Regions from separate parts of the Homo sapiens genome. Here regions 1 and 2 are each linked to region 3. Evidence: fine-mapped expression QTL. A gene starts in region 3. Each other region holds a variant in brackets. All regions are shown on one strand. Distances are from middle to middle.

Evidence for each region. PIP is the estimated chance that this variant, and not a neighbour inherited with it, causes the effect.
Region 1: its variant is fine-mapped to the expression of SCARF1 in whole blood (TOPMed, PIP 0.99).
Region 2: its variant is fine-mapped to the expression of SCARF1 in whole blood (TOPMed, PIP 0.99).

The regions. Positions count from the first base shown.
Region 1 is chr17:1,584,252-1,594,469 of GRCh38, reverse strand. SLC43A2 (solute carrier family 43 member 2) reads left to right here. Exons shown (of 14, transcript NM_152346.3): 6 at 1,191-1,283; 7 at 2,771-2,904; 8 at 2,999-3,201; 9 at 3,522-3,668; 10 at 8,419-8,557. Among named protein-coding and RNA genes, the nearest start is that of PITPNA, 27 kb to the right of the region's middle. RefSeq lists enhancers at 3,376-3,921, 3,922-4,467, 6,109-6,655, 6,656-7,202, 7,203-7,748 and 4 more and a silencer at 2,443-2,608. The variant T/G (reference allele first, on the strand shown) is at 5,251.
Region 2 is chr17:1,686,672-1,696,889 of GRCh38, reverse strand. No RefSeq gene overlaps it. Among named protein-coding and RNA genes, the nearest start is that of PRPF8, 6.9 kb to the right of the region's middle. RefSeq lists enhancers at 5,793-6,293, 6,294-6,794. The variant T/G (reference allele first, on the strand shown) is at 5,618.
Region 3 is chr17:1,640,108-1,650,325 of GRCh38, reverse strand. SCARF1 (scavenger receptor class F member 1) reads left to right here and starts at 4,594. Exons shown (of 11, transcript NM_003693.4): 1 at 4,594-4,729; 2 at 5,087-5,148; 3 at 5,391-5,492; 4 at 6,359-6,884; 5 at 9,660-9,878. The coding sequence starts at 4,629. It overlaps RILP (Rab interacting lysosomal protein), which reads left to right and starts at 460. Exons shown (of 8, transcript NM_031430.3): 1 at 460-749; 2 at 821-914; 3 at 1,020-1,126; 4 at 1,282-1,527; 5 at 1,831-1,976; 6 at 2,369-2,491; 7 at 3,337-3,420; 8 at 3,707-4,176. The coding sequence starts at 522. The coding sequence ends at 3,884. RefSeq lists a silencer at 857-1,151.

The DNA.
Region 1 (10,218 bases), 56 kb after region 3:
GGGCAGCCCCCAAGGCCAGGGACGCTGGGTGTGGACAGGAAAGGTTTGCTACACACAGTGTGATGTCTCTTGAGGTTAGAGAACCTGTGCCTCTTTGGGAGGATGTAGTTTGCCCTAGGCCTGGATTTCGGTAGAATGAGCAAGAGTTAGCCTTGAAGTCCTGTTCAGGTGGGCCCCCTCTTGCCCTGTACCCAGAATGAGCTGATGTGAGATGCCGAGAGTGGCTTCGTTGGGAAGAGAGCCCGGACCTTGCTTCCCGTTGGCCTTCCAGGATGCTAACTGCTCGGGCCGAACATCCTGTGGGAAGATAATCCCCTGCTTGTACTGAGAAATTCAGAAGCAGGAGGCCGGGCGCGGTGGCTCACGCCTGTAGTCCCAGCACTTTGGGAGGCCGAGGCGGGCGGATCACTTGAGATCAGCCTGGCCAACATGGTGAAACCCCGTCTCTACTAAAAATACAAAAATTAGCCAGGCATGGTGGCGGGCATCTCTAATCTCGCGACTTGGGAGGCTGAGGCAGGAGAATCACTTGAACCAGGGAGGCGGAGGTTGCAACGAGCCGAGCTCACACCACTGCGCTCCAGCCTGGGGAACAAGAGCAAAACCCCATCTCAAAACAAAGAAAAGAAATTCAGAAGCAGGAATCCTGGGCCAGCTTCATCCTCAGACCGAAGAGAACTGTAGAATTCTGATTGACATCTTCCAAAAACCTACCCTCTCCAAACCAAAAGCAGTTTTTGCTGACATCTGGTCTTTCTGGAATGCTGATATTTTTATTTATAAAATGATGCTATTATCCCCAAATAGATTCTTATTTTTAACAGGCTTTCTCCCTTTGAGGGCTGCCTGAGGCTCATAACTTTGTTCTCTGGCATCTCAGTGTTACCCTGAAAAGACAAGAAGGCTCCTGGGCTCTGCCAGGAGCAGAGAGATAGGGAGGGTTGCCAGCCGGAAAGTCAGACAACTGCTTGTATTCTGCATTACCTCCCTCCTTGGCCCCATCAGCCTCAGTCCATGAAGGAGAAACCTTCAGTGAGCGGTCATTGCCCCTGAACTAATGCCCCTGTGAGTCACACAGGAAGGGGCGCAGGTGAAGAAGGGGCCTCATGGGGCCTAGTTCTCTGTCCCCTCCTCCTCCCCTTCCCTGGTGCATCCTCCCCACTGAGGTTTCTCTGCTTCTTATCTCTCAGCTGCCCAACATGTTCGGCGACCTTCGGTCCACGTTTATTGCCTTGATGATTGGGTCCTACGCCTCCTCGGCAGTCACCTTTCCAGGAATCAAGGTGAGCACGTGTATTTTGCACTGGTGTCTGTGCAGAGGCCTGCTCCAGGCTCCTTCCACCCTCTCTGAAGAGGGAGGCAATTGTGGGCACCCGGGGTGGCCCCTCTCCACCACCCCCACCCGGGCAGGATGCACCTGGGCATCACAGGGGCGACAAATGAAAACCGCGGGGCCTCAGGGGACGGGAATCACGCATGTGGCTGCAGGATCTGCCGCAGGTGCCTTTGCATTTCGGGGCTGGGGCAGGGGAAGGGCGGTGGGTGAGTCTGTTTCCAGTTGTGAGTCTTGCCCCCGTCTCCTCCGTCATCCTGGTCTCCCGCTGCTCCCCTGCTCCCCAACCCCCAGCCTGCTGTTATTGTACCGTTACTCCCCGCCAGCCAAAGCACTGCTCTTGGCCAAGTGTTTCAGCTGTTTCCCTCCTAGGCAGGATTTTGAGCCTGTGGAAGTCACACAGGGTCAGGACGAAGCAAACACCTCACAGTCCATCAGCCCAAGTTCCCCAGACCCTGTGGGTCTGCCAGGGCCCCGTAGGGGCTTCTCCCACCTCTGACCCTCACACTAAGTAAAAGCCCCTTTCCTCGGTGGTGTGTGTGGGAATGCTGTTGGCGAGGAGAGGGGGACACGGTGTGGGCTGGCCACCTGGGCATTGAAGTGGTGGGAGCTGGGACTCTGGGGCCAGCCATCCTATGGACTTGCAGAGATTCTCATGCCCCTGGACTGGGGAGCATCCCGAAAGTTCTTCCTCCTCCTTTTTTTGGGGGGGAACAGGGTCTTGCTCTGTCGCCCAGGTTGGAGTGCAGCAGCACGATCTCGGCTCACTGCAACCTCCACCTCCCAGGTTCAAGTGATTCTCCTGCCTCAGCCTCCCAAGGAGCTAGGATTACAGGTGCCCGCCACCATGCCCGGCTAATTTTTGTATTTTTAGTAGAGATGGGGTTTCACCATGTTGGTCAGGCTGGCCTGGAACTCCTGACCTCATGATCCGCCCACTTTGGCCTCCCAAAGTGCTGGGATTACAGGCGTGAGCCACCATGCCTGGCTTCCTTGAGCATTTCTTTGGCCTCTGCCATGTGAGCTCTCAGAGGCACTGGGGAAGCATCAGTGGACGGGGCTGGCCGGTTCCCGCCTTCAGGGAGCTCCGCTAATACCAGACAAGCCGACGGACCAGGAGCACCGTCCCCTCTGCTGGGCCGATCACTATGAGCCTGCAAGACGTGCCGTGGTCATGGCGGGGCGGTCAGGAAGGCCTCCGAGTCGGGGGGCTAATCACACGCCAGGCCCAGATGACCAGCAGGGCAGGCACGGTGGGAGGACTGGAAGGCGGGTGCCTGATGCCCCAACGCCCAGGCTGGCAGGGCTGTGCCTCTTTGCGCGGCTCAGCACAGGGACAGCAGGGGTGGCCAGACGCCCCTGCCTGCTGCGGCTCTGGCCTCCCCGGGCTAACTCTGCCCCCTCCCCCCCCCACCCCGTCCCCGCGGTGCCTGTCAGCTCATCTATGATGCTGGTGTCTCCTTCATCGTCGTCCTCGTGGTCTGGGCCGGCTGCTCCGGGCTGGTTTTCCTCAACTGCTTCTTTAACTGGCCCCTTGAGCCCTTCCCGGGGCCGGAGGACATGGACTACTCGTAAGTAGAGGTGCCCCCGTCCCGCCTGCCCCCAGCCCCCGCCCCCCAGCCGGGGTCCCGGGCAGCACCCACAGACACTCTCCCGGGGCCCCAGGGTGAAGATCAAGTTCAGCTGGCTGGGCTTTGACCACAAGATCACAGGGAAGCAGTTCTACAAGCAGGTGACCACGGTGGGCCGGCGCCTGAGTGTGGGCAGCTCCATGAGGAGTGCCAAGGAGCAGGTGGCGCTGCAGGAGGGCCACAAGCTGTGCCTGTCCACCGTCGACCTGGAGGTGAAGTGCCAGCCGGATGCCGCAGGTACCCGCCTGAGACCGCAGCCGGGCGACGGGCAGGGAGTGCTCTGTGGGTATCGGCTCACCCCATTCCCACCTCACCCCAAAAGGGGAGGCGGCCCCGCCCGCCCTGTTCTGCAGAGGCGCTCAGGAAGGCCTGGGGGAGGGAAAGGGATTTGCCTGATTTCACCCAAGAGGTGACCCCACCGCAGCGCCAACCCCGTTACCCTCACCAGGCCCGTCCCGAGGGCCCCCTCCTGGCCTCCAGCGTGGAGGGATCTGCGTGTCCCCCCGGTGGTGGGGACAGTGTGCCCCGGCCCTGAGCCCCGCACCCTCTCCCTGCAGTGGCCCCCTCCTTCATGCACAGCGTGTTCAGCCCCATCCTGCTGCTCAGCCTGGTCACCATGTGCGTCACGCAGCTGCGGCTCATCTTCTACATGGGGGCTATGAACAACATCCTCAAGTTCCTGGTCAGCGGCGACCAGAAGACAGGTAGGTGCCCCGGGCAGCCTCGGTCGCTGTCACTCCCCGGCCTGAGCCCAGCCCACTGGCCACCGGCCAGAATGTGTTAAGCTGAGCCGGGCCAGCCGGGCCATGGAAAGGCCGCATCCCAGGAGCTGTCTGCCCGTCAGAGCTATTGCATCACTGCCAGCCCCAACTGTTTCTTCGTGTCCCCATCAGGGTTTCCTGGTCCAGGAGGGAGGGAAGGACCAAAATAGCCTCCTGGGTGTGGGGTGTGGGGTGTGTGTTTTCCAGTGCCTGAGGGGGAGGGTTGCCGTGTGTGTCTGTAAATGAAAACAGAACAGAACGCTCCACCTGAGCATGGCTGAAAGACAGCAGGTCAAGCCCAAAGTCCTCCCAGAAAGTGGCACGGTGGGTGCGTGGACACCCTGGGCATCGAGGTCAGGACGGGGCTGGAGACGCTGGGGCAACTGGCCCACACTGGGATCTGCATCCCTCACCGAGAAACAGGGCAGGGCAGAGACTTCCTCGGAGCTTGCGAACAGTTGAGGCTTGTCAGCTCCAACAAACACAGCTGATAACCCACAGTCCACTTTTCCAAACAGGGCAGGTCTTCAGCTGATTAGAGGTTTTGATTCTACAGAGAAAGTCAGGACTTCCCCGGGGCCTGAGCTGAGTCAGCCTTAGTCATCCCCAGGCGGGACAAACACTCCAAATCCTTTTTATTGGCAGCCTCCCTGGTGTGCCACTTTTTCCGATGGTTTCCTTGTTTTTATCAAGGTGAAGATACCCTAGGACTTGTGAAGAATCAGTTATCAGGTTTTTAGGGGATGAGAAATCCAGCTTTATCAAAAGGAAAAGATAGCAAAGGGAACCAGATAACAGCCAGTTCTACTGTGAAAATGGTAGTCTAGGCCAGGCACGGTGGCTCACGCCTGTAATCCTAGCCCTTTTGGAGGCTGAGGCAGGTGGATCATGAGGTCAGGAGTTCAAGACCAGCCTGGCCAAGATTGTGAAACCCCCATCTCTACTAAAAATACAAAAAATTAGCCAGGCGTGGTGGTGGGCCCCTGTAATCCCTGCTACTTGGAAGGCTGAAGCAGAGAATTGCTTGAACCCAGGAGGTGGAGGTTGCAGTGAGCCGAGATTGCGCCACTGCACTCCAGCCTGGGCGACAGAGTGCGACTCCATCTCAAAAGAAAAAAAAATATCTGTGGAACACACTTTGGGGAACCCTAATCTATCATGTCTCTTTCTTTCTTGTTTTTTTGAGGCAGGGTCTCTTTCTGCGTTGCTTAGGCTGGAGTGCAGTGATGTGAACGCTGCAGCCTTGACCTCTTAGGGCTCCCCAGGTGCGCGCCACCACACCCAGCTAATTTTTAAATTCTTTGCAGAGATAGGGTCTTGCTGTGTTGCCCAGGTTGGTGTCGAACTCCTGGGCTCAAGGGATCCTCCCCTCTTGGCCTCCCAAAGTGCTGGGATTACAGGCGTAAACCTCCACACCCAGCCTGATAAACATTCAGCCCTGGAGTGGCGGAAACCCCAAAGTGTGCAGAGAGAGCTGGTCCCTGGCCCTCGAAAGGCTCATCTCCCTGCTGCTGAGTCAGCGTCT[T/G]TTACTCAAGCTGTCTGAGAAATCTTTTGCTGCCCAGGAGGAATGTTTCCAACTGTTTCGTATGTTCAAAAAGTCAATTTCAAGAAGTAGAGGAAGCCAGGCCAGGAAGGTTGGTCTGTGGCAGACGAGGCACTGGTTTTCCCCCTCCTCCTTCTGTGACCCGTTACACCCAACACCCATAGCCCTAGCTCCGGCCGAGAGGCAGCTGCAGGGTCCGGGTCACTTTCCGCACACTCGTGAGCTTTGCGGCTCCGCAGGAGGGGGTGTGCCGTGCTGCTGAGGAACGGCTCAAAGCACCAGAGCCATCGCCTCCGCGTACGGCCCCGCGACCACCCGCGGCAGAGGCTCCCGGGTGCTGGTTCCGAATGGAGACTCCAGGCCTTGCCGCTGACCGGTGACTCTGCTGCCTCCCAGCGTTTGAGACCCGCCATCAAACAGGAGTTGCGGATTCAGGGAAACCCTAACTAGCCAGGGTGCTGGCAGCTGGGAAAAGGCCGCCTTTTTTTTTTTTTTTTTTTTTTTGAGTTGGGGTCTTGCTCTGCCACCCAGGCTGGAGTGCAGTGGTGCAACTGATAGCTCACCACGGCCTCCGACTCCTGAGCTCAAGGGATCCTCCCACCTCGGCCTCCTAAGTATCTGGGACTACAGGTGTGTGCCACCATGCCTGGCTAATTTGTTTTTTTTTTTTTTCCATAAAGACAAGGTCTTGCTATTTTTCCCAGGCTGGTCTCAAACTCCTGGGCTCAAGCAGTTCTCCCACCTCAGCCTCCCAAAGTGCTGAGATTATAGGCATGAGCCACAATGCCCAGCCAAAAATACAGTCTTTTTTTTTTGACATGGATTTTCGCTCTTGTCACCCGGGCTGGAGCACAGTGGCATGAGCTCGGCTCACTGCAACCTCCGCCTCTCGGGTTCAAGCGATTGTTCTGCCTCAGCCTCCCAAGTAGCTGGGGTTACAGGCACCTGCCACCATGCCCAGCTAATTTTTGTATTTTTAGTAGAGACGGAGTTTCACCATGTCTCCAACTCCTGACTTCAAGTGATCCACGTGCCTCAGCCTCCCAAAGTGCTGAGATTACAGGCGTGAGCCACGATGCCCAGCCAAAAAGCCAGTCTTGAGATGGGGAAGACGTGGCCCATGCTGTCCTCAGCAGTGCCCAGTCCCAGCCAAAGTGGGCACTGCTGCCTCACTCTCCCACCCACCCTCAGGGTGTGGCACTTACTGGGAAGAAGCAGGCATTGAGAAACAGAATTAAGGGGGGAAAACAGTCCAGGGCCAACAGTGCTTGGGGATTGAGGCCTGAAAATGGGAGCAGGGTACAGAGGCTGTGGCTGGCCAGATGGGTCGGGTGCCCCCTGCACCCCCACCCCCTAGTCAGGGGCCACCTGTCCTACCCTCCCTTTGTAAGAGTTGACAGGTGACATGTTTTCCTATTGTTGTCCTTGACTTGATAACAATCTAGGAGTTAAATAGATACTATCATCTGTTTACGTCATCATTTATGATAGATACTATCATCATATACACCTGAAAAACGAGGCCTGGAGTGATGGAGGAGCTTGTTCAAGGTCAGAGCCAGCACTCACATATGGGTCTTAAGACACTGGAGCAGCCAAGGGCCTCTAGACCAGGACATTCCACTCGGAGCAGCAGCTCAGGGGCCACCAGGCCTCTGTGGCAGGGGGGCCATGGCCCAAGGAAGGGGAGCAGGCCCAGGCATGGTCCCCGTTTCTTGGAGTGGAAGGGAGACCAGCTCTGGCCATCTGGAGGAGACCCATGGTGTCAGATGCCTTGGCTGGGCATCAGGGGCAGGTTCTTTGACCTTTCCCTCTCTCTGAGCACAGCAGGAGGTAGATGTGACAGAGCCGCTTCCCGCAGGCAGTGTGGTGACAGGGACCCTGATTGCACCAGGTCTTCCGCATGCCCGCCACTTCCCCATCACGCTACCCGCCAACGTCACAGGCCTGATTCACCAGTCCGCCTGTGACCCGGCACCAGCAGACAGGAGAATGTCAGCAGGGGCCCGGGCTGGGCATTGTCCCAAGTCCACTTCCAGAGGCCTGGCTGCAGCTCTGCCTCCCCTGAGCGCCCCGAGTCACGCTTAGTGGGAAATGCAGTGCGGGAAACGCAGTGTGGGAAATGCAGTGCGTGCTGGGCATGGAGTGAGCCTGCCTCCTCTCCCATCTCTCTGTAGCACTGAGATTTCTGCCACTAACCTCTCTTCTTTCTGCTTTTTCACTTTTGCTTTCTTGATGCAGTGATGGCCACGGGTAAGCGGGGGGTGGGGGGGATTGTCAGGGAATGCTGTGATGTCCCCTCCCAGCCAGTCTCTGTTCAACCCAGAAGCTCCTCACCTCAAGCTCCAGACATGCCTCCTGGCTAGAGCCGTGGGGGTAAAACTGGGGCAATCAACATTCCTCGTCTGCTTCCCTGGAAAATCCACTGTCATTTTAAGTCTTTGAATATGGAAGCCCTGACATCAGAGCCCCGTGAGCGGTGCCTTTCTGGGATATTTCTTTTTTTTTTGAGATGGAGTCTTGCTCTGTTGCCCAGGGTGGAGTGCAGAGGCATGATCTTGGCTCACTGCAACCTTCACCTCCCGGGTTCAAGTGATTCTCCTTGTAGCCTCCTGAGTAGCTGGGGTTACAGGTGCCTGCCACCACGCCCAGCTAGTTTTTGTATTTTTAGTAGAGACGGGGTTTCACTGTGTTGGTCAGTCTGGTCTCGAACTCCTGACCTCGTGATCCGCCCACCTCGGGCTCCCAAAGTGCTGGGATTACAGGCATGAGCCACCGCGCCCAGCCGTTCTGGGCTATTTCTAGAGACAGAAACTAACGGCCCGTCACTTAGCCTCCGTCACAGGAGTTCCCAAGTTATAGCGACTTCCTGGAGCTCTGGGAAGGCCATTGTGACACTCTGGGTTTCATTAGCTGTTTCTTAGAAACAAGCAGGGGATTTGGAACCGAGAAGAAGGTGACCTGCCCCGTGCTCCATCCTCAACTTCAGAGTTAAGGTCTCCGGGCTCCTCGCAAGACCCATAGTGACAGGGGGTTCTGGGGCAGACCCCAGAAGAGCCTGTGGGGACCAGCCCCTTCCCAGCTGGTGCCCAGTCCCTGCTCCAGGGCTGTCTGCCAGGCGTCCCCATGACGCAGCGCCTTCCTCCACAGTTGGCCTCTACACCTCCATCTTCGGCGTGCTCCAGCTGCTGTGCCTGCTGACGGCCCCCGTCATTGGCTACATCATGGACTGGAGGCTGAAGGAGTGTGAAGACGCCTCCGAGGAGCCCGAGGAGAAAGACGCCAACCAGTGCGTAGGCAGGGCCGGTGCCCCGGCTCCCAGCCCGCAGCCCCTGCAGAAAGACCCCAGAGCTGCATGTCAGGCACAGGGTGGGTGGGACAGAGGGAGAGAGCAATGCACTCCAGCTGCTCCCGGAGCCCTTAGAGAGACTCACTCATTCAGCTCAGCATGCGTTTCAACTGCTCCCCTCTTTATGGAAATTGTTTGGAATGCAATGGAAATGCTAAAGTTTGAGGCCAGGTGCGGTGACTCATGCCTGTAATCCCAGCACTTTGAAAGGCTGGGGTAGGAAGATCACTTGAGGCCAGGAGTTGGAGACCAGCCTGGGAAACATGGCCAGCCCCCACTCCCCGTCTCTACAAAAAATTTAAAAATTGGCCAGGGAGGGTGGTTCATGCCTATAATACCAACACTTTGGAAGGTTGAGGTGAGTGAATTGCTTGAGCCCAGGAGTTAGTGACCAGCCTGGCCAATGTGGTAAAACCCGGTCTCTACTAAAAATACAAAAAATTAGCCAGGTGCGGTGGCGGCGCGCGCCTGTAATCCCAGCTACTCAGGAGGCTGAGGCGCGAGAATTGCTTGAACCCGGGAGGTGGAGGTTGCAGTGAGCCGAGATCACGCCATTGCACTTCCAGCCTGGGCAACAGAGCAAGACTGTCTCAAAAAGAAAAAACAATAAAGAAGAAGCATTGAGTAAGAAGGAAGAAAAAGAGACACAGGTGAAAGTGTACAGACAATGGCTAGCAGACCATTTTGCTCCTAAGACCACCCTCCCTCCACCCCTTGGCAGTGGCTACACCATCTTAAAGCCTCCCAAAGTACTGGGATTAACAGGTATGAGGCACCGCGCCCGGCTCAGATGGTGACTTTCATTCATTGCATTCAATCATGCAGCCCACCAACCCTTTGTTATCTGCCTGCAAGGTTTATTCCGGTCAGTTTGAGTAGTGAGTTGCTATAAACATATTATGTGTTAATAGAGTTGTTCATGATTGTGAAGATTAAACAAGGTACTGGAGTCCTACTTTATGTAAGGGATGGGCTCCAAGATCAGAGGATGAGTTAAACGCTGTTTTCTTTTTTCTTTTTCTTTTTTTTTTTTGAGACGGAGTCTCGCTCTGTCGCCCAGGCTGGAGTGCAGTGGCTCTATCTCGGCTCACTGCAACCTCCGCCTCCCGGGTTCACACCATTCTCCTGCCTCAGGCTTCCAAGTATCTGGGACTACAGGCGCCCGCCACCACGCCCGGCTAATTTTTTTAATATATATTTTTAGTAGAGACAGGGGTTTCACAGTGTTAGACAAGATGGTCTTGATCTCCTGATCTTGTGATCCGCTTGCCTCGGCCTCCCAGAGTGCTGGGATTACAGGCATAAGCCACCACGCCCAGCCAAACGCTGTTTTCCATGGCTCCACACCTTAATATAATAAGCTACGGTTTATTGCCTGAGGCCCTCCACCGAGGACTCCATGCACAGTATCTCAGTGAAGACTCCCAGCACCCTGGCGAAGTGGGGACCAGTGTTATACCCATTTTACAGATGAGGGAGCTGAGGCTGGGACTTGCAGTAGTTTGCCTAGGGCCGCACAGTTAGGAAGTGGTGGGCCTGGGACTCCCTGCACATCTGTGAGCACCTGGGGTCCGTTCTTGGATCATCCAGGGTGTCTGCGT
Region 2 (10,218 bases), 47 kb before region 3:
ATGACAAGTGAAACTGTCAATTTTTTTTTCTTTTTTTTTTTTTTTGAGACGGAGTCTCGCTCTGTCGCCCAGGCTGGAGGGCAGTGGTGCGATCTCGGCTCACTGCAAGCTCCGTCTCCCGGATTCACACCATTCTCCTGTCTCAGCCTCCCGAGTAGCTGGGACTACAGGCGCCTGCCACCACGCCCAGCTAATTTTTTGTACATTTAGTAGAGACGGGGTTTCACCATGTTAGCCAGGATGGTCTCGATCTCCTGACCTCGTGATCTACCCGCTTCGGCCTCCCAAAGTGCTGGGATTACAGGCGTGAGCCACCGTGCCTGGCCCCACGCCTGGCTAACTTTTTTTGTATTTTTAGTGGAGACGGGGTTTCACCGTGTTAACCAGAATGGTCTCGATCTCCTGACCTCATGATCTGCGCGCCTCGGCCTCCAAAAGTGCTGGGATTACAGGCGTGAACCACCGCGCCCGGCCCAATTTTATGATTTAAGGAAGATGTGCCAATTTACTCTGTGGCTCCAAGTATCACTGGGACAGTTCATTTTTCTTTATTCTCTGTCTTTTTTTTGTTTGTTTTTTTGAGATGGAGTTTTGCTCTTGTTGCCCAGGCTGGAGCACAATGGTGCGATCTTGGCTCACTACAACCTCTGCCTCCTGTGTTCAAGCGATTCTCCTGCCTCAGCCTCCCGAGTAGCTGGGATTACAGGCACCTGCCACCATGCCCGGCTGTTTTTTATATTTTTAGTACAGACTAGGTTTCACCATATTGGCCAGGCAGGTCTTGAACTGGTCTCAAGTGATCTGCCCGCCTTGGCCTCCTAAATTGCTGGGATTACAGGCGTGAGCTACCGCACCCAGACTTTATTCTCTTTTTTTTTTTTTTTTTTGAGACGGAGTTTCGCTCTTGTTGCCCAGGCTGGAGCGCAATGGCGCTATTTTGGCTCACGGCAACCTCCGCCTCCCAGGTTCAAGCAATTCTTCTGCCTCAGCCTTCCGAGTAGTTGGGATTACAGGCACCAGCCACCATGCCCGGCTAATTTTTTGTGTTTTTAGTAGAGACGGGGTTTCAGCATGGCCAGGCTGGTCTTGAACTTCTGACCTCAGGTGATGCGCCCACCTCGGTCTTCCAGAGTGCTGGGATTACAGGTGTGAGCCACCTCGCCCAGCTGACTTTATTCTCTTTATAACAAATATTTATAAAGGGCCTACGACATGCCAAGCACAAACTATGAGGTGTAATAGTGAGTCAATGAACCAGAGCCCTGGCATCAGAGAGCCTGCACTCAGGACTGTGTTAGAGAGTGAGGAACTGAGAAAGTAGGAGTCATTCGGCAGAGGGAAACCAGGGGTGACAGATACAGAAACAGGTCATCCTTGGCCGGGTGCGTTGGCTCACGCCTATAATCCTAGCACTTTGGGAGGCCGAGGCAGACGGATCACTTGAGGTCAGAGGTTCAAGACCAGCCTGGTCAACATGGGGAAACCCTGTCTCTACTAAAATTACAAAAATTAGCCAGATGTGGTGGTATGCACCTGTAATCCCAGCTACTCAGGAGGCTGAGGTGGGAGAATCGCTTGAACCCAGGAGGCAGAGGTTGCAGTAAGCCAAGATTGCACCACTGCACTCCAACCTGGGTGACAGAGTGAGATCCTGTCTCTCAAAAAAAAAGGAAAAGAAAAAGAAACTGAAGAAACAGGTCATTCAAGTACCTGTAGCCTGAGAATGAGCAGATGAATCTAGAGGATGGGATGGTTGCATTCTGACATCCAAAGGGTTCTCCAGAACCCGACTCAGGCGCTTTCCTTCCAAACCTGCATCCAGTCCACTCAGTCTGTGCATGACCCTGCCATCGACGCACTGTGCAAATCGGGAACTGAGGAGTCGTCCCTGAACAATGCCACCCACCTCCCACCACAGATGCACACTTCCAGTTATTGCAGGACGGCTTTCCCACCCATCCATCCTTTCCATCTCCGCTGTCCCATCTGGTCCGAGTCACCATCATCTCTAGTCTAAGCGACATAATAATGGCTGGCCGGGCAGGGTGGCTCATGCCTGTAATCCCAGCACTTTGGGAGGCCAAGGCGGGCGGATCACGAGGTCAAGAGATCGAGACCATCCTGGCTAACACGGTGAAACCATGTCTCTACTAAAAATACAAAAAATTAGCTGGGCGTGGTGGCGGGCGCCTGTAGTCCCAGCTACTCGGGAGGCTGAGGCAGGAGAATGGCATGAACCTGGGAGGCGGAGCTTGCAGTGAGCAGAGATCGCACCACTGTACTCCAGCCTGAGCGACAGAGTGAGACTCTGTCTCAAAAAATAAATAAATAAAATAATAATAATAATAGTAATGATAATAATAATAATAATAATGGCCTCGTAACTATTCTCCACAGAACAGCCAGTCTGTGATTGTCACGATGCAAATCTGATCATGTCATTCCCAGTAGCTCTTCCTACTTCTTAAGAAAGAAGCATAACTCATCACATGGTCTGTGGCCTTCCAAGGGCTCCCCTCTTGTCCACTCACCAGACTCAGGGTACTTCCTATTTCATTCTTTTTTTTTTTTTTTTTTTGAGACAGAGTCTCACTCTGTTGCCCAGGTTGGAGTGCAGTGGTGTGATCTCAGCTCACTGCAGCCTCTGCCTCCTGGGTTCAAGCAATTCTCCTGCCTCAGCCTCCTGGGTAGCTGGGATTACAGGCACCTCCCACCACACCTGGCTAATTTTTGTATTTTTAGTAGAGATCAGGTTTCACCATGTTGGCCGGGCTGGTCTCGAACTCCCAACCTCAGATGATCTGCCCACCTCTGCCTCCCAAAGTGCTGGGATTACAGGCATGAGCCACTGTGTCCGGCCCACTCTTGTTTTTTGAGACGGGGTTGTGCTCTGTCACTCAGGCTGAATTGCAGTGGTGCGACCTCGGCTCACTACAACCTCTGCCTCTCAGGTTCAAGCGATCCTCCCACCTCAGCCTCCTGGGTAGCTGGAACTACAAGTGCACACCACACGCCCAGCTGATTTTTTTTCTTTGTATTTTTAGTAAAGATGGGGTTCTGCCATGCGGACCCGGCTGGTCTTCAACTCCAGGACTCAAGTGATCTGCCCACCTTGGCCTCCCAATGTGTTGGGATTACAGGCGTGAGCCACCACACCCAGCCCGTTTCAGTCTCTGTGGCCTTAGTTCATTTATTAAATACACCATGCTCCTTCCTTATTCAGAAATCTATTCCTATTTCATTGCCCAGCGCCTGGTAGGCTTTCCTTCTCCCTCACTTCCATCTTCCTGGCTTCCCTCCTCCTACTCACTCCCTTTGTCTTACACATTCTCATTTTGCAGTGCTTATTTACAACATCTCCTCTTTTTTTTTTGAGACGAAGTCTCACTCTGTCACCAGGCTGGAATGCAGTGGTGTGATCTCAGCTCACCGCAACCTCTTCCTCCTGGGTTCATGCGATTTACTGCCTCAGCCTCCCTAGTAGCTGGGATTACAGGCACCCGCCACCACGCCTGGCTAATTTAGTGTTTTTAGTAGAGACAGGGGTTTCACCACGTTGGCCGGGATGGTCTCGAACTCCTGACCTTTTGATCTGCCCACCTCAGCCTCCTAAAGTGCTGGGATTACAGGCATGAGCCACTGCACCCGGCCTTTTTTTTTTTCAAATTCAGACAGGATCTCATTCTGTTGCCCAGGCTGGAGTGTAGTCTCCAGTACAATCTTGGCTCACTGCAGCCTCCACTTGCTGGGCTCCAGCCATCCTTCCACCTCAGGCCTGAGTAGCGGGGACTACAGGCGTGAGACACCATACCTGGCAAATTTTTGTATTTTTTGTGTTGAGGTTTCGTCATGTTGCCCAGGCTGGTCTTGAACTCTTGACCTCAAGTGATCCTCCTGCCTTCGTCTCCCAAAGTGCTGGGATTACAGGAGTGACCCACGGCAACATCTCTTTTCCCAAAAAAACTTCTATGACTCTTTTCATAAAATCAGGTGAGATCTCTGGACTTCTCATTGGAAGCACTTACTATAATTTTAATTGAAGAGCCAATTATGGACATTTAAAGGAAGCCCCTAACATGAAATAAACTTTTTTAAAAGAAGATGAAGAAAAAGAAAAACACGGATAAAGCAAACAGTATGCCTGGAGAATAAAACTTCAGAAAAGCTATTTTCCTTATAGAGACAAGAGAGTATGTTGTAGCCATGAAACAAGAACATGATCCTACAAAAGAAGAACTAAAAAGAGGTGGGTGCGGTGGCTCACGTCTGTCATCCCAGCACTTCAGGAGGCCGAGGCGGGTGGATCATGAGGTCAGGAGTTCAAGACCCTCCTGGCCAACATGGTGAAACCCCGTCTCTACTAAAAATACAAACAATAGCTGGACGTGGTGGCAGGCGCCTGTAACCCCCAGCTACTCGGGAGGCCGAGGCAGGAGAATCGCTTGAACCCAAGAGGCGGAGGTTGTGGTGAGCCGAGATTGCGCCACTGCACTCCAGCCTGGGCGACAGAGCAAGACTCCGTTTTTTTTAAAAAAAAAAAAACTAAGAAAGAGTACTTAGTATTTGGAAATGAAAAGTGTGACACTTGATGGAAATGAAAAGTTCATGGAGGAGTTGGAAGAAAGTCTCCCGGAAAGAAGAGTAATGATGGGGATAGAATTAGAAAAGATGAGACAATCGTGGGACCAGTCCAAAAGACCCAACATCAAAATAACGGAAGATCCAGAAAGAGCAAACTGAGAAAAGAAAAAAATGAAAATCGTCAATTAAATAATGAGATATGGCCGGGTGTGGTGGCATGCGCCTGTAATCCCAGCCACTCAGGAGGCTGAGGCAGGAGAATAAAGTCCAACTCATCAAGCTTCTCTCTCTTTTTTTTTTTCATTTTTTCCTGAGATGGAGTTTCGCTCTTGTTGCCCAGGCTGGATTGCAATTGCATGATCCCAGCTACTCTCCAGAGTCTGAGGTAGAAGAAGCACTTGAACCCCAGAGGCAGAGGTTGCAGTGAACCCAGATCGCGCCATTGCACTCCAGCCTGGGCAACAGAGCGAGACTCCATCTCAAAAAAAAAAAAAAAAAAAAAAAAAAGTCCAGGCGCCGTGGCCCACATCTGTAATTCCAGCACTTTGGGAGGCCAAGGGGGACAAATCACAATGTCAGGAGTTCAAGACCAGCCTGGCCAACATGGTGAAACCCCATTTCTATTAAAAAGACAAAAAATAGCTGGGCTTGTGATGGCAGGAACCTATAATCCCAGCTGCTTGGGAGACTGAGGCAGGAGAATCGCTTGAACCCGGAAGGCAGAGGTTGCAGTGAGCCGAGATTGTGCCATTGCACTCCATGCACTAACTCCAGCCTGGGCGACAGGGCGAAACTCCATCTCAAAAAAAAAAAAAAAAAAAAAAAAGGCCGGGCGCGGTGGCTCACGCCTGTAATCCCAGCACTTTGGGAGGCCTAGGCGGGTGGATCATGAGGTCAGGAGATCGAGACCATCCTGGCTAACACGGTGAAACCCAGTCTCTACTAAAAATACAAAAAAAAAATTAGCTGGGCATGATGGCGGGTGCCTGTAGTCCCAGCTACTCGGGAGGCTGAGGCAGAAGAATGGCGTGAACCC[T/G]GGAGGCAGAGCTTGCAGTGAGCTGGGATCACACCACTGCACTCCAGCCTGGGCGACAGGGCGAGACTCCATCTCAAAAAAAAAAAAAAGAATGGGTAAAGGATCTGAATACATATTTATCCAAAGACGATATACATGCCATAACAATATAACAAGTATGAACCTCAAAAACATCATAAAACATCATGCTGGCCAGGCTTAGTGACATGCACCTGCAGTCTTAGCTATTCTAGAGGCTGAAGTGGGAGGACCCTTTGAGCCCAGGAGTTTGAGGTTATAGTGAGCTATGATAGCACCAATGTACTTGAGCCTGGATGACAGAGTGAGACCTTCATTTCTAAAAAACAAATAACAACAACAACATCAACCACAAAACCATTATGCCAAGTAAAAGCAGACAACCACACACAAAAAAATTCATTATTCTATCATACCATTTATATAAAATGTTGAGAACAGGTGAATCTATAGAGATGGAAAACAGAAAAGTAGTTGCCTAGGGCTGAGGAATAGGAGGTAGGAGGAAATGGGGGAGCGAATGTGTAGAAGATTTCTTTGCTCTCTCCCTCTCCCTCTCCCTCTCCCTCTCCCTCTCCCTCTCCCTCCTCTCCCTCTCCCTCTCCCCACGGTCTCCCTCTCCCTCTCTTTCCACGGTCTCCCTCTCCCTCTCTTTCCACAGTCTCCCTCTCATGCTGAGCCGAAGCTGGACTGTACTGCTGCCATCTCGGCTCACTGCAACCTCCCTGCCTGACTCTCCTGACTCAGCCTGCCGAGTGCCTGCGATTGCAGACTCGCGCCGCCACGCCTGACTGGTTTTGGTGGAGACGGGGTTTCGCTGTGTTGGCCAGGCCGGTCTCCAGCCCCTAACCGCACGTGATCCACCAGCCTCGGCCTCCTGAGGTGCCGGGATTGCAGATGGAGTCTCCTTCACTCAGTGCTCAATGGTGCCCAGGCTGGAGTGCAGTAGCGTGATCTCGGCCCGCTACAACCTCCACCTCCCAGCCGCCTGCCTTGGCCTCCCAAAGTGCCGAGATTGCAGCCTCTGCCCGGCCGCCACCCCGTCTGGGAAGTGAGGAGCATCTCTGCCTGGCCGCCCATCATCTGGGATGTGAGGAGCCCCTCTGCCTGGCTGCCCAGTCTGGAAAGTGAGGAGTGTCTCCGCCCGGCCGCCATCCCACCTAGGAAGTGAGGAGCACCTCTGCCCGGCCGCCATCACATCTGGGATGTGAGGAGCGCCTCTGCCCGGCCGCGACCCCGTCTGGGATGTGAGGAGCACCTCTGCCCGGCCGCCCCGTCTGAGAAGTGAGGAGCCCCTCCGCCTGGCAGCCGCCCCGTCTGGGAAGTGAGGAGCCCCTCCGCCCGGCAGCCGCCCCCTCTGGGAAGTGAGGAGCGTCTCCGCCCGGCAGCCGCCCCATCCGGGAGGGAGGTGGGGGGGTCAGCCCCCCGCCCCACCAGCCGCCCCATCCGGGAGGGAGGTGGGGGGGTCAGCCCCCTGCCCGGCCAGCCGCCCATCCGGGAGGGAGGTAGGGGGGTCAGCCCCCCGCCAGGCCAGCCGCCCCGTCCGGGAGGGAGGTCGGGGCATCAGCCCCCCGCCCGGCCAGCCGCCCCATCCAGGAGGGAGGTGGGGGGGTCAGTCCCCCGCCCGGCCAGCTGCCCCGTCCAGGAGGTGAGGGGCGCCTCTGCCCGGCCGCCCCTACTGGGAAGTGAGGAGCCCCTCTGCCCGGCCAGCCGCCCCATCCGGGAGGGAGGTGGGGGGGTCAGCCCCTCGCCTGGCCAGCCGCCCCGTCCGGGAGGGAGATGGGTGGGGGGGTCAGCCCCCCGCCCGGCCAGCCGCCCCGTCCGGGAGGTGAGGGGCGCCTCTGCCCGGCCGCCCCTACTGGGAAGCGAGGAGCCCCTCTGCCCGGCCAGCCGCCCCGTCCGGGATGGAGGTGGGGGGGTCAGCCCCCCGCCCGGCCAGCCGCCCCATCCGGGAGGTGAGGGGCGCCTCTGCCCGGCCGCCCCTACTGGGAAGCGAGGAGCCTCTCTGCCCGGCCAGCCGCCCCATCTGGGAGAGAGGTGGGGGGGTCAGCCCCCCGCCCGGCCAGCCCCCCCATCCGGGAAGTGAGGGGCGCCTCTGCCCGGCCGCCCCTACTGGGAAGTGAGGAGCCCCTCTGCCCGGCCACCACCCCGTCTGGGAGGTGTGCCCAACAGCTCATTGAGAACGGGCCAGGATGACAATGGCGGCTTTGTGGAATAGAAAGGCAGGAAAGGTGGGGAAAAGATTGAGAAATCGGATGGTTGCCCTGTCTGTGTAGAAGGAGGTAGACATGGGAGACTTTTCATTTTGTTCTGTACTAAGAAAAATTCTTCTGCCTTGGGATCCTGTTGATCTGTGACCTTACCTCCAACCCTGTGCTCTCTGAAACGTGTGCTGTGTCCACTCAGGGTTGAATGGATTAAGGGCGGTGCAAGATGTGCTTTGTTAAACAGATGCTTGAAGGCAGCATGCTCGTTAAGAGTCATCACCACTCCCTAATCTCAGGTACCCAGGGACACAGACGCTGCGGAAGGCCGCAGGGTCCTCTGCCTAGGAAAACCAGAGACCTTTGTTCACTTGTTTATCTGCTGACCTTCCCTCCACTGTTGTCCTATGACCCTGCCAAGTCCCCCTCTGTGAGAAACACCCAAGAATTATCAATAAAAAATAAATAAATAAATAAATAAATAAATAAAAAAGATTTCTTTGGGGGGTGCTGGGAATGTTCTGGAACTCAATAGTGGTAACTGCACAAGTCTGTAAATATACTAATTTTGAATCATTAAAACTAAAATTCATTAACAATCATTGAATTATACACATGAAAACAAGCGAACTTTATGGATTGCGATTTTTTTTTTTTTTTTTTTGAGGCAGAGTTTCGCTCTTGTTGCCCAGGCTGGAGTGCAATGGCGCGATCTCAGCTCACTGCAACCTCTGCCTCCAGATGCAAGCGATTCTTACATCTCAGCCTCCCAAGTAGCTGGGATTACAGGCATGCACCACCATGCCCCGCCAATTTTTGTATTTTTAGTAGAGACAGAGTTTCACCATGTTGCTTCGTCTGGTCTCGAACTCCTGACCTCAGGTGATCCGCCCGCCTCGACTTCCCAATGTGCTGGGATTACAGGCATGAGCCAGCATGGTGGCCATGGAGTGCAACTTTTATCTCAATAATGCTGTTTTGAAAATAGTACAGAGAGTTCTTGTGTACCCTTCACGTAGCTTGAGAACTTTTTATTTTATTTTATTTTTGAGCGAGAGTCTCACTCGGTCACCCAAGCTGGAGTGCAATAGCATGATCTCAGCTCACTACAACCTCCACCTCCGGGTGCAAGCGATTCTTATGCCTCAGCCTCCCAAGTAACTAGGATTACAGGCATGTGCCACCATGCCCCACTAATTTTTGTATTTTAGTAGAGACAGGTTTTCACCATGTTGGCTAGGCTGGTCTCGAATTCCTGACCTCAAATGATCCACCTGCCTCAGCCTCCCAAAGTGCTGGGATTACAGGCGTGAGCCACCACACCTGCCCCCTGCCCACCCCCCAGAACTTGTTTTTTTTTTTTTTTTTGGAGACGGAGTCTTGCTCTGTCACCCAGGCTGGAGTGCAGTGGCCCGATCTTGGCTTACTGCAACCTCTGCCTACCGGGTTCACACCATTCTCCTGCCTCAGCCTCCCGAGTAGCTGGGACTACAGGCGCCTGCCACCATGCCCGGCTAATTTTTTTGTATTTTTAGTAGAGATGGGGTTTCACCGTGTTAGCCAGGATGGTCTCGATCTCCTGACCTCGTGATCCACCCTCCTCAGCCTCCCAAAGTGCTGGGATTACAGGCGTGAACCACCGCGCCCGGCCACCCCCCAGAACTTCTTATACAACCATAGAGCGACAATCAAACCAGGAAATTGACATTGGTACAATACTCTTTTTTTCTTTTTTGAGACGGAGTCTTGCTCTTTTGCCCAGGCTGGAGTGCAGTGACTATCTCAGCTCACTACAACCTCTACCTCCTGGGTTCAAGCGATTCTCCTTCCTTAGCCTCTCAAGTAGCTCGAAGCACAGGTGCGTGCCACCATGCCCGGCTAATTTTTTTGTATTTTTAGTAGAGACAGGGTTTCACCGTGTTAGCCAGGATGGTCTCGATCTCCTGACCTTGTGATCCGCCAGCCTCGGCCTCCCAAAGTGCTGGGATTACAGGCGTGAACCACCGCGCCCGGCCACAATACTCTTAATGAAACTACAGACCATAGTAGGATTTCACCAGGGCTTAGAGCAATGTCTGGCACGTAGTGAACCTTACACAGGTGAAAGGACTTCACTACCATGACGATGATGATGATGAAGATGATAATGATGATGTTGGACTTTCTAGCACAGCCAGATTGATATGGTGCCTATTTTCAGAGCATGCCATGTTAGTTTCTATATCTAAACCTTTTTTGGCCTGGCACGGTGGCTCACGCCTGAAATCCCAGCAATTTGCGAGGCTGAGGTAGGCAGATTACTTGAGCTCAGTAGTTCGAGACCAGCCTGACAAACATGGAGAAACGCCATCTCTACGAAAAATACAAAATTAGCCGGGT
Region 3 (10,218 bases):
TCTAGGAACTCTGTGGCTTGTGCTGAGCGGCTGCGGTGTCCAGCCCAGCCCTTTAAGCTTTCTGTGTCAGTCCTGGTCAGGAAAACAAGCACACAGGCAGGCAGTTTGTGTACAGCCGGGCGGAGGCCAGAGACCGGCTGCCTACCTGTCACCTCTCGCCTGGAGCGGGCCACTGCCAAGTTGGCCCCATGACTCCAAACGGGCGGAGCCTGGATTGGGCCTGTGGGGAGGGCTCCACTCAAGTGACCACTTGCAGCCCTGAACCTCAGCTCTTGGACGCCTGGCTGGAAGTTGGCTGTCTTGTTTCCTGTGACCTTGGGGGTGGAAAGGACAGAGCCCAGGCGACCTAGGGCACTATCTCCCTACCCCACGCCTTCTCCCTTCCTCGTTCCTCCCTACCCTTATCGCTTCTACCCCGCCCACACCGCCCTAAACGGCTTCCTGGGGCGGAACTGTTTCGCTTTTCCCCGTCCCAGTGGAGGGTGGGGTGGGGGGGTCGCAGCCCTAAGCCTCTGGGAGACATGGAGCCCAGGAGGGCGGCGCCCGGGGTGCCTGGCTGGGGGTCTCGGGAGGCCGCGGGGTCGGCATCGGCCGCGGAGCTTGTGTACCATCTAGCCGGGGCCCTGGGCACTGAGCTGCAGGATCTGGCGCGCCGTTTCGGGCCGGAGGCGGCGGCCGGGCTGGTGCCGCTAGTGGTGCGGGCGCTGGAGCTCTTGGAACAGGCTGCCGTGGGGCCCGCCCCGGACTCGGTGAGTCATGGCCCTCCCTTCGCCACCCACGGGGCCGGCAGGGCCGAAGCCTGAGACCCGGGTCTCCCCAGCTGCAGGTGTCGGCGCAGCCGGCGGAGCAGGAGCTGCGGCGGCTGCGGGAGGAGAACGAGCGCCTCCGCAGGGAGCTGCGCGCGGGGCCACAGGGTAAGCGCAGCCCCGGCCAGGGCAGGGCGGGTGACGACCTGCTCGGGTCCTCCCCTCCCTCCCGCGGGCCGCGCGCCGCCGCCGCTAAGAACGCCCCTTCCTCAGAGGAGCGCGCGCTGCTGCGGCAGCTCAAGGAGGTCACGGACCGACAGCGGGACGAACTCCGGGCGCACAACCGCGACCTGCGGCAGCGCGGCCAGGAGACCGAGGCGGTGAGGGCGGGGCGGGGCTCTGGGGCGGGGCGGGGGCGGAGCGTGGCAGGCGCTGGGCGGGGCTCCGGGGGCGGGGGCGGAGCGAGGCAGGCGCTGGGCGGGGCTCCGGGGGGCCCTCGGTGCCCCGCCCACCCCACCCTTTGCTCCGCTCCCAGTTGCAGGAGCAGCTGCAGCGCCTCCTGCTGGTGAACGCTGAGCTGCGGCACAAGCTGGCGGCCATGCAGACCCAGCTGCGCGCCGCGCAGGACCGCGAGAGGGAGCGCCAGCAGCCTGGCGAAGCCGCGACTCCGCAGGCTAAAGAGCGAGCGCGGGGGCAGGCCGGGCGGCCCGGGCACCAGCACGGACAGGAGCCCGAATGGGCGACCGCCGGCGCAGGCGCCCCAGGGAACCCTGAGGACCCGGTGAGTGCCGTATGAGGGCAAGGACCCAGCCCAGGACGCAGCGTCCAGCCCTCGGTGGGCACTCAAGCAAGGTTTGCATGCTGCACAGCAGGTCGGCCAGGAAGCGGGGAGGTGGCAGACAGATCTGCGCCCCCGGCCGGCCTCGGCCCCCGCTCTCAGCTGGAGCACTGCTCTGTTATCTGTTAGGGCACCCTTGTCCCCCAAGTCTCCCGGCCCGTCACTTCCTCTAGCATTCCCATGATGGCCCTGGGGCGGGGGAACGCCAGCCGAGGCGACCCTCTGACTGTGCCTGTCCTTCCAAAGGCGGAGGCCGCGCAGCAGCTCGGGCGCCCCTCGGAGGCAGGGCAGTGCCGCTTCAGTCGGGAGGAGTTTGAGCAGATCCTTCAGGAGCGGAATGAACTCAAAGCCAAAGTGTTCCTGCTCAAGGAGGAACTGGCCTACTTCCAGCGGTGAGGACGCTGGGAAGCCGGGGGGCCTCCGATCACCCCACCTCATTCTCCAGTCATTGACATGTCCACAGTGACATGTGCCAGGCCTGCGCTGGGAACTGGGAGGACATGAATTGTACAGCCCTTGCCCTCCTGCAATGTCATCCAGACAGGGGAGAGGGACAGTACAAAGGGTTGCAGCTGCAGCAGCCAGGGAATCTCTCCTAGGAGGGGGCCACGGGGCCACCTAATTTAAGGTCTGAGGGTGTCAGCAAGGCAGAGCGCTTCCCGTGTTCAGGGAAGAGCTGCGTGCACAGGTACCAGGAGTGAGGACTGCGGCTGGCATCTCCACTGCTGGCATCCCCATGGCTGGCATCACCAGGGCTTTCTCCCTCCCTGCCCCTTTTCTTTAGGGAGCTGCTCACAGACCACCGGGTCCCCGGCCTTCTGCTCGAGGCCATGAAGGTGGCTGTCCGGAAGCAGCGGAAGAAGATCAAGGCCAAGATGTTAGGGACACCAGAGGAAGCAGAGAGCAGGTAGGTCCCTGCCTGCATTCCCACGGAGCCAGGCCTCCCTCCCTCATTCTGCTGAGCCTGATGACCCAGCCTGGTCACCCTCTGAGCCCATTGTCTCAGACTGAGGCTGTCACCCCAACCCGGTCACCCCTTGAGCCTCCCTAGCCTGGCCGCTTCTAGGGCCTGCTGACCTGCTCTGGCTGTGTCCCATGGCCGCTGTCCAGCCTGCGCCCTTCTCCCTGGATCTCACCACTCCCCTTGCCTTGCCTGCCATCCATTCTGCCTGACAACACTGCCTCTCCACATTCATTCTTCAAGTTCCTGTCTTGGCTGGGTCTGTTTATTCTTACGGGGGTGAAACTGTAGCCGCGGCTGTGTCAGGGCCTGCTGTGTGTCAAGCTATAAAATAAACCCTTGGCAGGGCGCGGTGGCTCACGCCTGTAATCCCAGCACTTTGAGAGGCTAAGGTGGGTAGATCACCTGAGGTCAGGAGTTCGAGACCAGCGTGGCCAACATGGTGAAACTCCGTCTCTACTAAAAATACAAAAATTAGCCGGGCATGGTGGCATGTGCCTATAATCCCAGCTACTCAGGAGGCTGCGGCAGGAGAATCGCTTGAACTTGGGAGGCGGAGGTTGCAGTGAGCTGAGATCGCACCACTGCACTCCAGCCTGGGCGACAGAGTGAGACCCTGTCTCAAAAAAAAAAAAATTAAAAATTAAAGGCTCGACATCCTGCATCTCCCCAGGGTTGCCTTCTCTCCAGCCCCGGGGGCCCTGCAGTCCCTCCATCCCCCCTGCTGGATTCCTGTTGTCCCTCAGGGCCTTGATCAATGGCCCTCACTTCTCCTCTCTCCTCTGTCTCAGTGAGGATGAGGCTGGCCCATGGATCCTGCTCTCCGATGACAAGGGAGACCATCCCCCACCCCCGGAGTCCAAAATACAGAGTTTGTATGTTGGGGAAAGGGGAAAGGCAAGAGTGTGGGGAGGGAGGAAGGGCCCTGGCTGGTCCTTCTCAGGATCCCCTTTCCCGCTTCTCTGCCCGTCACCCTGCTGTGCTTGGCTCTAAGCACACCGTCCCCTCCTGCTTCTCTGGCCCTGGCCCCCATCACCTTCACACTCCCTCAGGCTGCCCTTTCTTCCCCCTCTCCCCTTTTCTCACCATCCCCTGCCCTCACCCATATCCTTGACCTCTCTGGCTTCCTGGCTCAAAGTGCCTCTGGCTGTCTCTCTCCAGCTTTGGCCTATGGTATCGGGGTAAAGCTGAATCCTCTGAGGATGAGACCAGCAGCCCTGCACCCAGCAAGCTAGGGGGAGAAGAGGAGGCCCAACCACAGTCTCCAGCTCCTGATCCGCCCTGTTCTGCCCTCCACGAACACCTTTGTCTGGGGGCCTCAGCCGCCCCAGAGGCCTGACTTAGGGGTCTGGCTGTGGAAGGATGTGTGGCCTCAAATGAGGACAGGGCTCCCGCCTTCACAGCCCTCGCCAGGGGTCTGCCCCAATCCTGGCCTGCATCAGGGCAGGACGGGGTCTCAGCCCGCCTCCCTCTCTACGTCTCTGTACCGAGCCTCTGGGGCCAGATATAAGAGTGCCTCTCTGAGTCTCAGTTTCCCCATCCATGAAATGAGAGCTGACTGCCTAGCTCCCAGGGCTTTGTGCAGACGGCCTGAGCTCATGTAATAAAGAACTGCCCGTAATACACAGAAACTGTTCCTCGCCTGTCTGTCCATGTCTGTGCCACCTCCCAACCCTGCCAGGAGCAGAGGCAGGCTGAGGGGTCCTCGCTGGTCTCCTTGCTCAGTCACTGGGTGGGGTGGCTTCTTGCAGCTCAGGCCTTGCTTTGGGAGTGTGGCCTGATGGAAAGCCGTGGCTCCCAGCCTCAGTCCACCCCCTTCCCTGGCCCCGGCACCCAGGGACCTGCAACTTCATTCTTCTGGCCCTTCCAGGCCCAGGCCAGTCAGCCCTGCCATTGCCTTTCTTTCCCTTTCTTTTTTTGAGTGTCAGTCTTTCCAGCCACCCCCTCCCTCTCAGGGAGGTGCCTCGTGGCAGCCCGCCCCTCCGGCCTGGTTTCCTCAGGAAAAGCCCTGAGAGGAAGCAGGGAGGGGGTTGGGAGCTGTGGGGGCCAGACGAACCCGAGCGCTCCCACCGAGCTGCCTGCCATGGGGCTGGGGCTGCTGCTCCCGCTGCTGCTGCTCTGGACTCGGGGGACTCAGGGGTCCGAGCTGGACCCCAAAGGGCAGCACGTCTGTGTGGCCAGCAGGTGGGTCTCGTGGGAGTCTGATGCGTGTGGCCAGCAGGTGGGTCTCGTGGGAGTCTGATGCGGGTGGCTGAACCGGTGTTGAGGCCGTTAGGGGAAGGAGGAGACTAGGAAGGGGGCTTAGGCTGAAAGGAAGGGACTGCTGATGGCGGTCTGGCAGGTAGTGGCCAGCCAGGGCAGATGGTGGAAGGGTCAGGGAAGGAGAGGGGAGGGGCTGGGGACCCTAGCTGTAAAGATCCATTAGGCCTCCCCAGGGGGCTAAGGCAGCCTCCCCCACTGCAGCCAGAGACAGTGATCCACCTTCCTCAGGGCCAGGCTGCACCCCCCACCATGTCCGGCTGACCCCTTTTTGCCCCACAGCCCCTCTGCTGAGCTGCAGTGCTGCGCAGGCTGGAGGCAGAAGGATCAAGAATGCACCATCCGTGAGTAGCCAGGACAGACCCTCAGCCAAGGAGAAGGGAGGCCGTAGCCCAGTGACAACCCTTCCTTCCTACCCCATGGGGCCTGCCCCTCCTGATACCAGGAGTCAGGGTTTCTCCTGTGACGCACCCCCAGGCCTGAAGGGGCACCTCTTGAGGAGGCATGGCCCCTGGAGCCAGTGAGAGGGCAGGGGTGTCCCCTGGTCCTGCTCCCGTCTTTCCAACCTGGGTGGGGTGTCTTTCAGCCATCTGTGAGGGGCCGGACGCCTGCCAGAAAGACGAGGTGTGTGTGAAGCCGGGCCTCTGTCGATGCAAGCCTGGATTCTTTGGGGCCCACTGCAGCTCCCGTGAGTCTCAAGGGCCAGATGAAGTTGCTGGGCAGAGCTGGGTACGGGGGCAGTGGTGTGGGAGCAGGCGAGGCAGGTAGCCATGCAGCCTCAGGACAGCAGGGCCAGAATCCCCCCCAGCTTCACTGAGGAATTGCGGTCCAGAGACAGGAAGTGACACACACTCCCGGGAGATGACCTGAGTCACCGGGTTTTTACCCACATCCACAAAGCACTGCCCACCTGAGCATCTTCCTCTTCCACTTCTCAGAAAACCTGTGATTCCCCTTCATTGTAAAATGAGTGTATTACTTGCCTTTCCCACATATACCTTATACATGGGCAGTGGATGGAAGGGGGCCCCTGGCTGGGCTCTCTGCCCTCTCTGGCAGAAAGAGAGGGAAGGGAAAGGGGTTGGGAAGCAGGAGAGCCAGAGGGTGGGCATCAGGAATCAAGGAATCACTAGGGGAAAGGTGGCTTCTCCCGACACCCTGGCGGGCAGTATCCAGGCCTGAGATCAGGAGAAAGCCAGCTCTCCTCCAGCCCAGCAGAGATCCATCTCGGCAGGGAGGAGCAGGCATGGAGGAAGGCCCACCAACCTCGGTGCCACGCTCTGGGCAAGTCCCCTGCCCACTCAGGATCTCTGAGTGTGTTCTGGAATGTGAAGTGGCAGGCTGAGCCTCCCACTAATGGCTAAGGGTTTTCTGTAGGTCAGAGCGGAGCAGGAAGTGAGTGTTGCCCAGGACAGGCTGCCGGATGTTCTGAGGGTCTGTCCCCGGCTCTTGGAGGATGGGCCCAGCGCCCCTTTTCCTTGAGGAAGGGGACGCAGGGTAAGGGTCTGCGCGCGGCCCTGAGCCCGCTGACCCCTCCCGTCCCCACCCCCGCAGGCTGCCCGGGCCAGTACTGGGGCCCCGACTGCCGTGAGAGCTGCCCCTGCCACCCGCACGGCCAGTGCGAGCCAGCCACGGGCGCGTGCCAGTGCCAGGCCGACCGCTGGGGAGCCCGCTGCGAGTTCCCGTGCGCCTGCGGCCCCCACGGGCGCTGCGACCCCGCGACCGGCGTGTGCCACTGCGAACCCGGCTGGTGGTCGTCCACGTGCCGCCGCCCGTGCCAGTGCAACACCGCGGCGGCGCGCTGCGAGCAGGCCACGGGCGCCTGCGTGTGCAAGCCGGGCTGGTGGGGGCGCCGCTGCAGCTTCCGCTGCAACTGCCACGGCTCCCCGTGCGAGCAGGACTCCGGCCGCTGCGCCTGCCGGCCGGGCTGGTGGGGTCCCGAATGCCAGCAGCAGTGCGAGTGTGTGCGGGGCCGCTGCAGCGCCGCCTCCGGCGAGTGCACCTGCCCGCCCGGCTTCCGCGGAGCGCGCTGCGAGCTGCCCTGCCCGGCAGGCAGCCACGGGGTGCAGTGCGCACACAGGTGAGCGGGCGGGGCGGGGACAGGTGGGCTGGCGGGGCGGGGGCGGACACAAGTGAGCAGGCGGGGCGGGGCGGAGACAGGGGGGCGGGGCGGAGACAGGGGGCGGGGCGAAGACAGGTGGGCGGGGCGGACACCGGTGGGCGGGGCGGACACCGGTGGGCGGGGCGGGCACCGGTGGGCGGGGCGGACACCGGTGGGCGGGGAGGGGGCGGGGTGGAAACTGGTGAGCGGGCAGGGTGGGGGCGGGGCGGGCACAGGTGAGCGGTCGGGGGAGGGGGCGGAGGCGGACACAGGTGAGCGAGGCTGCGCGGAGACCTGTGAGCGGGCGGGGCGGAGCGGAGACAGGTGGCCGCGGCGGGGCGCCGGGAGGAGGGGTCAGGGCTTCGCGGTGCTCCTCTCAAAAAACATACAAAGCAGAGGAACGAGAAAGGGGAAAAGTCGGATAGGTGGGGTGGCTCACACCTGTAATCCCAGCACTTTGGGAGGCTGAGGCGGGTGCATCACCTGAGGTCAGGAGTTCGAGACCATCCTGGCCAACATGCTGAAACCTCGTCTCTACTAAAAACACAAAAATTAGCCGGGCTGCGCCTGTAGTCCCAGGTATTCGGTAGGCTGAGACAGGAGAATCGCTTGAGCCCTGGAGGCGGAGGTTGCAGTGAGCCGAGGTCGCACCACTGCACTCCAGCCTGGGCCAGAGAGCAAGACTCCGTCTCAAACAAAACAAAACAAAAACTTTTAAAAACGCTTTGTTGCCCCAGGTCCAGCCTCACCTGCTCATTTCATTGATTACTGCTGTGCAAAATATACTAGCACTGCTAGCAAGCCATATGTAGGTAATAAGTGGATCGAGTCCAACAATGATAGACTGGGTTAAGAAAATGTGGCACATATACACCATGGAATACTATGCAGCCATAAAAAATGATGAGTTCATGTCCTTTGTAGGGACATGGAAGAAATTGGAAATCATCATTCTCAGTAAACTATCGCGAGAACAAAAAACCAAACACCGCATATTCTCACTCATAGGTGGGAGTTGAACAATGGAATCACATGGACACAGGAAGGGGAATATCACACTCTGGGGACTGTTGTGGGGTGGGGGGAGGGGGGAGGGATAGCATTGGCAGATATACTTAATGCTAGATGACGAGCTAGTGGGTGCAGCACACCAACATGGCACATGTATACGTATGTAACTAACCTGCACAATGTGCACATGTACCCTAAAACTTAAAGTATAATAATAAAAAAATATATATAAATATATTTAAAAAAAGAAAATTAAAAAAATGGTTTCTTACAAAAAAAATAATAAATAAGTGGATCGAGTGACCAAGGGTCCTGAGCAAGGTCCCTTTAGGGCTCAGTGGCTTTCAAACTTTGACTGGCTGCACTCACAGTAAGAAATTTCATCCCTGGCTGGGCGCGGTGGCTCACGCCTGTAATCCCAGCACTTTGAGAGGCCGAGGCGGGCGGATCACCTGAGGTCAGGAGTTCGAGACCAGCCTGGCTAACATGGTGAAACCTCGTCTCTACTAAAAATACAAAAATTAGCCGGGCATGGTGTTGGGCGCCTGTAATCCCAGCTACTTGGGAGGCTGAGGCAGGAGAATCACTTGAACCCGGGAGGCGGAGGTTGCAGTGAGCCAAGATCGCGCCACTGCACGCCAGCCTGGGCGACAGAGTGAGACTCAGTCTTGAAGAAAATAATAATAAAATAAAATAAGAAATAAAAATGCTGGTCAGGATCAGCTAAATGGCTTTTATAAACTGCCCTTCTTCTCCCCTACTAATGGGTCTGACCCAAGTATATGATCCCAGCTAGTTAAGCATCTGAGGGAGAAACTTCAGGTAACTATTAGGCATCAATGGGAAATTAAGATATGGCAAATGTGAAATTATATTGGTGACAACAGTGGTCTCCAACCTTTTGGCACCAGGGACTGGTTTCATGGCAGACAATTTTTCTATTATTACACTGTAATCTATAATGAAATAATAATATGACTCACCATAATATAGAATCAGTGGGAGCCCTGAGCTTGCTTTCCCGCAGCTCGAGGGTCCCATCTGGGGGTGATGGGAGACAGTGACAGATCATCAGGCATTAGATCCTCGTAAAGAGCATGGAACCTGGACCCTCCCGTGCGCAGTTCACAATAGGACTGGCGCTCCTATGAGAATCTGAGGCCACCACTGATCTGGCTGGCAGCGGAGCTCAGGCGGTCAGGCTCCCCTGCTGGTCATCTCTACGCTGTCGCCCAGTTCCTAACATGCCACGGACTAGTACCAGTCCATGGCCCAGGGTTTGAGGACCCCTGGGTGAAAACACTTTACATTTTTTGCATTTCGTGTGATGGGGTAGAAGACACTACTGAGTCCCATTCATGCCAGACCTGGGGACGGCTCAGTGTGGAAAAAGGAAAAGTGAAAAGAGCAGGAGGGAAGGCCTGGCAGACCTCGCAAATGGGACTCAGAGCTTGGTGGTGACTCGCCTGCCCTGGCTGGGCTGCTGGCTCCTGATGGTCCTGGGACCCAGGGAAAGACGGTCACAGAGCAGATGCCTGGAAGGAAAGGGATGGGATCCTGTAAGAGCCCTCATTTGTCCTCATTGTACAACGTGGGGAAACTGAGGCTCAAACCTGCCTGACCCAGGTGGGACCCGAACACTCTCCAGGGCCCCCGAAGGCCTGCGTGGAGTACAGGGGTAGGAGGGGGTGGGCGCTCCATCCATCCACCCCCACTGTTCCCACGAAGCCCTTCTCTTCCCAGCTGTGGCCGCTGCAAACACAATGAGCCGTGCTCTCCAGACACAGGCAGCTGTGAGTCCTGCGAGCCGGGCTGGAACGGGACCCAGTGCCAGCAGCCCTGCCTGCCTGGCACCTTTGGCGAGAGCTGCGAACAGCAGTGCCCTCACTGCCGACATGGGGAGGCCTGTGAGCCAGATACTGGCCACTGTCAGCGCTGTGACCCTGGCTGGCTGGGGCCCAGGTGAGGGCACCATTCTGTTCAGGGTGGGGTACACCTTCCCCCAGGACCCTCAGCTCAGCGGCTCTCTCCGAGAGCACCACCCTCCCCGACACACAGGTTCATGCGGCCCCAGGGGCCTCCCTCCTGTTGAAGACTGGGGGAGAGCAGTGGGTTCTGGGGGGGCCTGGGCAGGATCCCAGCTCCCTCCCCTCTGAGGCTTCCTGCCCTCCTCGCCCTCTGGGGACTTGTAGTCTGTCACCTGCTGGATTTGGCCCCAAGTTCAAGGCCCTATTTGCACCTGAGCTTCACTGCTGAGGAGTGGCCAGTTGGGTCCTTGAGTCCAGGAGCGTGGGGCGGAGGG